Linked DNA regions of Homo sapiens: region 2 is linked to region 1. The links come from fine-mapping of genetic effects on gene expression. A gene starts in region 1. The other region holds a variant in brackets. All regions are shown on one strand. Distances are between the middles of the regions.

Evidence for each region. PIP is the estimated chance that this variant, and not a neighbour inherited with it, causes the effect.
Region 2: its variant is fine-mapped to the expression of MYADM in whole blood (TOPMed, PIP above 0.99).

What each region holds. Positions count from the first base shown.
Region 1 is chr19:53,866,617-53,869,514 of GRCh38, forward strand. MYADM (myeloid associated differentiation marker) reads left to right here and starts at 1,267. Exons shown (of 3, transcript NM_138373.5): 1 at 1,267-1,327. MYADM-AS1 (MYADM antisense RNA 1) reads right to left here and starts at 2,491. Exons shown (of 3, transcript NR_184033.1): 1 at 2,293-2,491. RefSeq lists enhancers at 72-1,047, 2,157-2,898 and a silencer at 2,823-2,882.
Region 2 is chr19:53,888,858-53,891,687 of GRCh38, forward strand. PRKCG (protein kinase C gamma) reads left to right here. Exons shown (of 18, transcript NM_002739.5): 4 at 781-892; 5 at 1,029-1,160; 6 at 2,817-2,830. Among named protein-coding and RNA genes, the nearest start is that of PRKCG, 8.1 kb to the left of the region's middle. The variant A/G (reference allele first, on the strand shown) is at 1,724.

The DNA.
Region 1 (2,898 bases):
TGGATCCCTTCCCCTCTTGCAGGATCCGTGAATCCAGAGCCCCAAGCCCCAGCCCCAGCCCCATCCTCATTAAAATTCTGAGTCCCTCCCTCCATCCAGGAGTCAGGAATGTAGGCCAAAAATATCGCTGCCTTCCAGACCCAGGCGGCTAGGCTTGCAACACCTGCTCGGAAAACCCGAGTCTGAGCTTTAATGGTTCTATTATGATGATCATGATGATTTATTTTTAATAGAGCAGAGTCTCCTTATGTTGCCCAGGCTGGTCTCGAACTCCTGGGCTCAAGGGATCCTCCCTCCTCAGCCTCCCGAAATGCTGGGATTACAGGCGTGAGCCACCGCGCCCAGGCCTGATTGTTCTTTTGAGCCAAGAATCTGGGCCTCAGCCTAGGCATCCTGTGGAGCCCAGGAATCCGGGCCCCCAACTGCTACCGCGCTAGCTCCCAGGAATTTTGCCCCCAACACACCCCACCCCTATCCACTGTGATATCTGAGACCTGCGTCCAGCCCGAGTCCCTTACCCTGCGGCGCCCGGTGCCAGTGGGTACTAGGGGAGCATTTTGCCGCCCCTTCAAGTCCTTAAATACAGGAATCTAGCCTCTGTTTCTTGGGGAGACCCATCAGTCAGGGATCGTAGCCCAGAACCACCTAAAGCCCAGGAATACTGCTCTCAATTCTGCTCTCCCTCAGGGCTCCAAGAGACAGAGATCCTAGCCCCCCCATTGAACTGAGGGGCCTGGTCCCCCAATCCGCTGCGACCCAGGTGTCTAAGGTTTCATCCGGCAAGGAAGGGGTGGGGGCGGAACAGACCAGGAAGGAGGGGGTAGGAAGGGAGCGGAAGAAAGGAGTGAGGTGAGACGGGGGCGGGGACCTGAGCTGGGGGGCTCTGCACTAAACAAACCCTAAACATGCGGGGTTTCTATGGTAACGGTCTTCCCTGGCCTACCCGGGAGACTCCTCTAGGGCTGTGTCGAGGAGGGCAGCCCCCAGGAGTCTCCACGCCGCCAGCTGTTGTGTCTTCCTGTTTTGTCACCACGGCAACCGTGACCTCAGCCCTCCACCCTGCTCACTGGGGTGGGGCGGGAGCTCCACGCTACTTTTACTCTGGGGGGCGTGGTCTGCTCTTGGCCCCGCCTCGGGGCGGGGCTGGGATAGCCCAGACTCGGGGAAGTCCCTGTCCACCGCCCTAGCCGGAGCTGCGCCCCGCCCCGGCCCCGCCCCCGTCCCGCCCGCGCTGGCTCCCCAGCCCTCCAACCCCACCCAGCCCTCAGACCCTTCCAGCTGCCGCTGTCGTCTTTGCTTCAGCCGCAGTCGCCACTGGCTGCCTGAGGTGAGGTTGTGGGGACCCCAGAGGGCATAAGCAACAGTCTAGGGTCTTTATGGCCAGAGAGAGGAATGGGCTGGGTCTCAGAATGTCTGGGTCCCTAGAAAGACTGGGGCTGGGCCAGGATTCTTGGGGTTCTGCAGAGGAGAGGGCTGAGGACCTGGACTGTGGAGGTCATACGTCTGGAAGAGTGGGGAAGGGGACCTGGACTCCGGGGTCTGAGGGAGGAGGGGCTGGGGGTCTGGACTCCCGGGTCCGAGGCAGGAGGGGCTGGGGGGTCTGGACTCCTGGGTCCGAGGGAGGAGGGGCTGAGGGCCTGGACTCCTGGGTCTGAGGGAGGAGGAGCTGGGCCTGGACTCCTGAGTCTGAGGGAGGAGGGGCTGGGTCTGCGGGAGTAGAGAGATGGGGACTCGTAGGTGCCCTAGTTGGAGGCTGGAATCTGGTACGTGGAGGTCCTTTAGGAGGGGAAGCGCTTAGGGTTAGGTGTCCTGGGTTTGGGAATGAGAATGGAAGGAATTCAGAATTACTGACCCCTCCCCATCCAGGGGACAGACAGAATCGGAACTTTGGGCTCCTGAAAGGCCGAGGGAGGGGGGTGTTAAGATCCAGCCCCGTGCTTCCGAAGTGCAGAAGGAGCTGGGAAAGGAGGAGAAGACAGGGCTGCGTCCCGCACCTCTGGGTGCCGAGAGCCGAAGCTGGGGTTCCGGGGCCCGATTCTCAGCGTGAGCGATGGGTGTGGCGTCTGGAGTGGACGAGGGAGGACACTGAGGGGCTGGGTGTGGCCCGGAGAGTCGGGTGCGCTGCGAGGAATCCCGGAGGGGTGTTTCCTCACCCTCCAGGGTCTGGCTGCGCATTCCTGAGCTCTGATCTCGGGCGATGGCTGGAGGCCCTAAGGGCGGGGTGGACCCCTCCCCTCCCCTCCCCTCGGCGCGCCCCCCTCCCCTGCGCGCCCCCCTCCGCGGCTAGCCCACCTTCCGCGGGGGACAGAATGAGTGACGCCCTCGCTCGTCCTCCTCCCCTGCTTGGGACGGGGCAGTAGCCCGCCTTCTAGAGCACGGGACGCTGGGCCAGTCCCGATTTCCTTCTCCTTCGAGGGTCCTGGAGGGGCGTGGGGGCAGGCAGTGTCTGGCTCCGGGTGGAGCCTCCCAGGTGCTCCCGCAAGCCCCGAATGGCGATTAGGGAGGCCGTGGGAGGCGTAGCTGGGCCTCGGGCCTGACGCCAGCACCGCGTGCAGTTTCCGGCCTGGAGCCTGAGCCCCTCAGAGGCCCGGGTCCCTGCCCACTCCGGTCTTAGAGATGCTCTTGGGGGGGCTCTCAGCCCATGTTTATAGGGATCCAGAAATGCAGGCCTCCAACCCTGAGAGTCGGGGTCCCCACCCCCCGGAAATCCGGGAGAGGGCGGGCAGCCCCGGAGGCGGGCGGGGGTCCGGGCACCGCCTCCTGGTCCCTGACACATTCCAGATGCCTGGGCCGACTCGAAGCCCTTATAAGGCGCGGAGACACCGGCTCTGGCTGGGCCGCCCGCCTCCACAGCCGCCGCCCAGGGTTCTCCCGCCACTGCCGCCCGCACCCCCGCCC
Region 2 (2,830 bases), 22 kb after region 1:
TATGGGAGGTTGGAAGCTCCTGCCTCCTTCATGTTCTGCCCAGATATCATTTGGTCAGCGAGGCCCCCCTGCCACTCCCCCTGCACACAGTTTTGTTGTTGTTGTTGTTGTTTGAGACAGAATCTTGCTCTGTCATCCAGGCTGGAGTGCAGTGGCACAATCTTGGCTCACTGCAACCTCGGCCTCCTGGATTCAAGCAATTCTCATGCCTCAGCCTCCTGAGTAGCTGGGATTACAGGCATGCACCACCATGTCCGGCTAATTTTTGTATTTTTAGTAGAGACAGAGTTTTGCCATGTTGCCTAGCCTGGTCCGGAACTCCTGAGCTCAAGGCAATCCGCCCACCTCGGCCTCCCAAAGTGCTGGGATTACAGGCATGAGCCACCGCACCCAGCCAGGACCACCGTATTTAAAATTTCAATCCCCCAACTTCTGGTGGTCCCCATCCCTGCCTCATTTTTTCTCCAGAGCACCCATTACCAACCATCAAACTATATGTTTTATTTATTTACCATGTTTACATTCTGTATCCCTCCATTAGGAAGTAAACTCCATGTGACAAAGAGGTTTTTTTTTTTCATTTGTTTAATGCTGGGTCCCCACACCAAGAACAGTCCCTGGCACACAGCAGGTGCTCAATGATTATTGGTACATAGAGTGAAAGAGATGGAGCCTCAGGCTGACCTAGAGAGCAAGGCAGGAGGAAAAGATAAAAGGGCCCCTCCCCTGGGGTTTTAGGACCCTCCCAACGCCCCCTAAGCCAGTCTTCTCTGCCCCCAGGACCCCCGGAACAAACACAAGTTCCGCCTGCATAGCTACAGCAGCCCCACCTTCTGCGACCACTGTGGCTCCCTCCTCTACGGGCTTGTGCACCAGGGCATGAAATGCTCCTGTGAGTGACCTGGGCCTTGCCAGGGCCCTTCCAAAGCGCCCGGTCTGGGTTCCGGGAAATGCCCGGGATGGGGTGGGGGGTGGAGTCTTGGCTTGGGGGCGGGGCCTGAGGTGCTACCCGCAGCTTTCCCCTCCAGGCTGCGAGATGAACGTGCACCGGCGCTGTGTGCGTAGCGTGCCCTCCCTGTGCGGTGTGGACCACACCGAGCGCCGCGGGCGCCTGCAGCTGGAGATCCGGGCTCCCACAGCAGATGAGATCCACGTAACTGGTGAGGCCCCGCCCCCTCGCCTGGCCCCGCCCCCTCCCCAAGTGTGAGGCGGGGCTGACCCAAGGCACTTGTGCTGGCCCAGCCCTACCCCAAAGATGGGGCCACGCCTCTTTCTATGGTCACGCCCACACTCCTGACCCCACCCCAAAGGCCGAGCACACCCAGCCATACCCCTTTTGGCTCGAAGCCCCGCCTCCAACCTGGCTTCTTGCAACTTTCTGCACCTGTTAATGACTTTGACTTTCTTTTTTTTTTTGGGACGGAGTTTCGCTCTTGTTGCTCAAGCTGGAGTGCAATGGCGCGATCTCGGCTCACTGCAACTTCCGCCTCCCGGGTTCAAGTGATTCTCCTGCCTCAGCCTCCCGAGTAGCTGGGATTACAGGCGCGTGTCACCAAGCCCGGCTAATTTTTTGTATTTTTAGTACAAACGGGGTTTCACCATGTTAGCCAGGCTGGTCTCGAACTCCTGACCCCAGGTGATCCCCTCGACTCGGCCTCCCAAAGTGCTGGGATTAACAGGCGTGAGCCACCGCGCCTGGCCAATGGCTTTCTTTTTTGTTTTT[A/G]TTTTATGTTTATTTTTTTGAGATGGAGTCTTGCTCTGTCACCCAGGCTGGAGTGCAGTGGTGCAATCTTGGCTCACTGCAATCTCTGCCTCCGGGGTTCAAGGGATTCTCCTGCCTCAGCCTCCCGAGTAGCTGGAATTACAGGCGCCTGCCACCACATCCGGCTAATTTTTTTTTTTTTTTTTTTTTGAGACAAGATCTCGCTCTGTTGCCCAGGCTGGAGTGCAGTAGCATGATCTCAGCTCACTGCAACCTCCGCCTCTCAGGTTCAAGCGATTCTCCTGCTTCAGCCTCCTGAGTAGCTGGGACTACAGGTGCATGACACTGCACCCAGCTCATTTTTGTATTTTTAGTAGAGACAGGGTTTCACCATGCTAGCCAGGCTGGTCTGGAACTCCTGACCTCAGGTGATCCGCCCGCCTCCGCCTCCCAAAGTGCTGGGATTACAGGGGTGAGGACCGTGCCCGGCAATGGCTTTCTGGGTATAAGGATCTTGAGAAGGGAGAGTACCTGGTTCTGAGGGAGGCTGTGGTTCAGTACTGGTGACATGGCCAGGGTCCAAACTCTGGTTCCTAATGGAGAGAAGGGCTCTGGATCTGATTTCAGGGTCACTGGTTGCGGAAAGGGCTCTATGCCCTGTCTTCTGGGTTCTGGAGAGGTAAGAAGTCATGAGAAACGAGACTGAGAGCTTGGAATTCTTTTTTTTTTTTTTTTGAGACGGAGTCTCGCTGTGACGCCCAGGCTGGAGTGCAGTGGCGTAATCTCGGCTCACTGCAAGCTCCGACTCCTGGGTTCACGTCATTCTCCCGCCTCAGCCTCCTGAGTAGCTGGGACCACAGACACCTGCCACCACGCCCAGCTAATTTTTTTTTTTTTTTGTATTTTTAGTGGAGACGGGGTTTCACCATTCACAGGATGGTCTCGATCTCCTGACCTTGTGATCCGCCCGCCTTGGCCTCCCAAAGTGCTGGGATTACAGGCATGAGCCGCCGTGCCTGGCCAAGCTTGGAACTCTTGATTGCTGACTGGAGGAGGGCTGGGAGCCCCTTCCTGGATCTCTAACCCGTCACACTCTTCCTCACTCCCCGTTTAGTTGGCGAGGCCCGT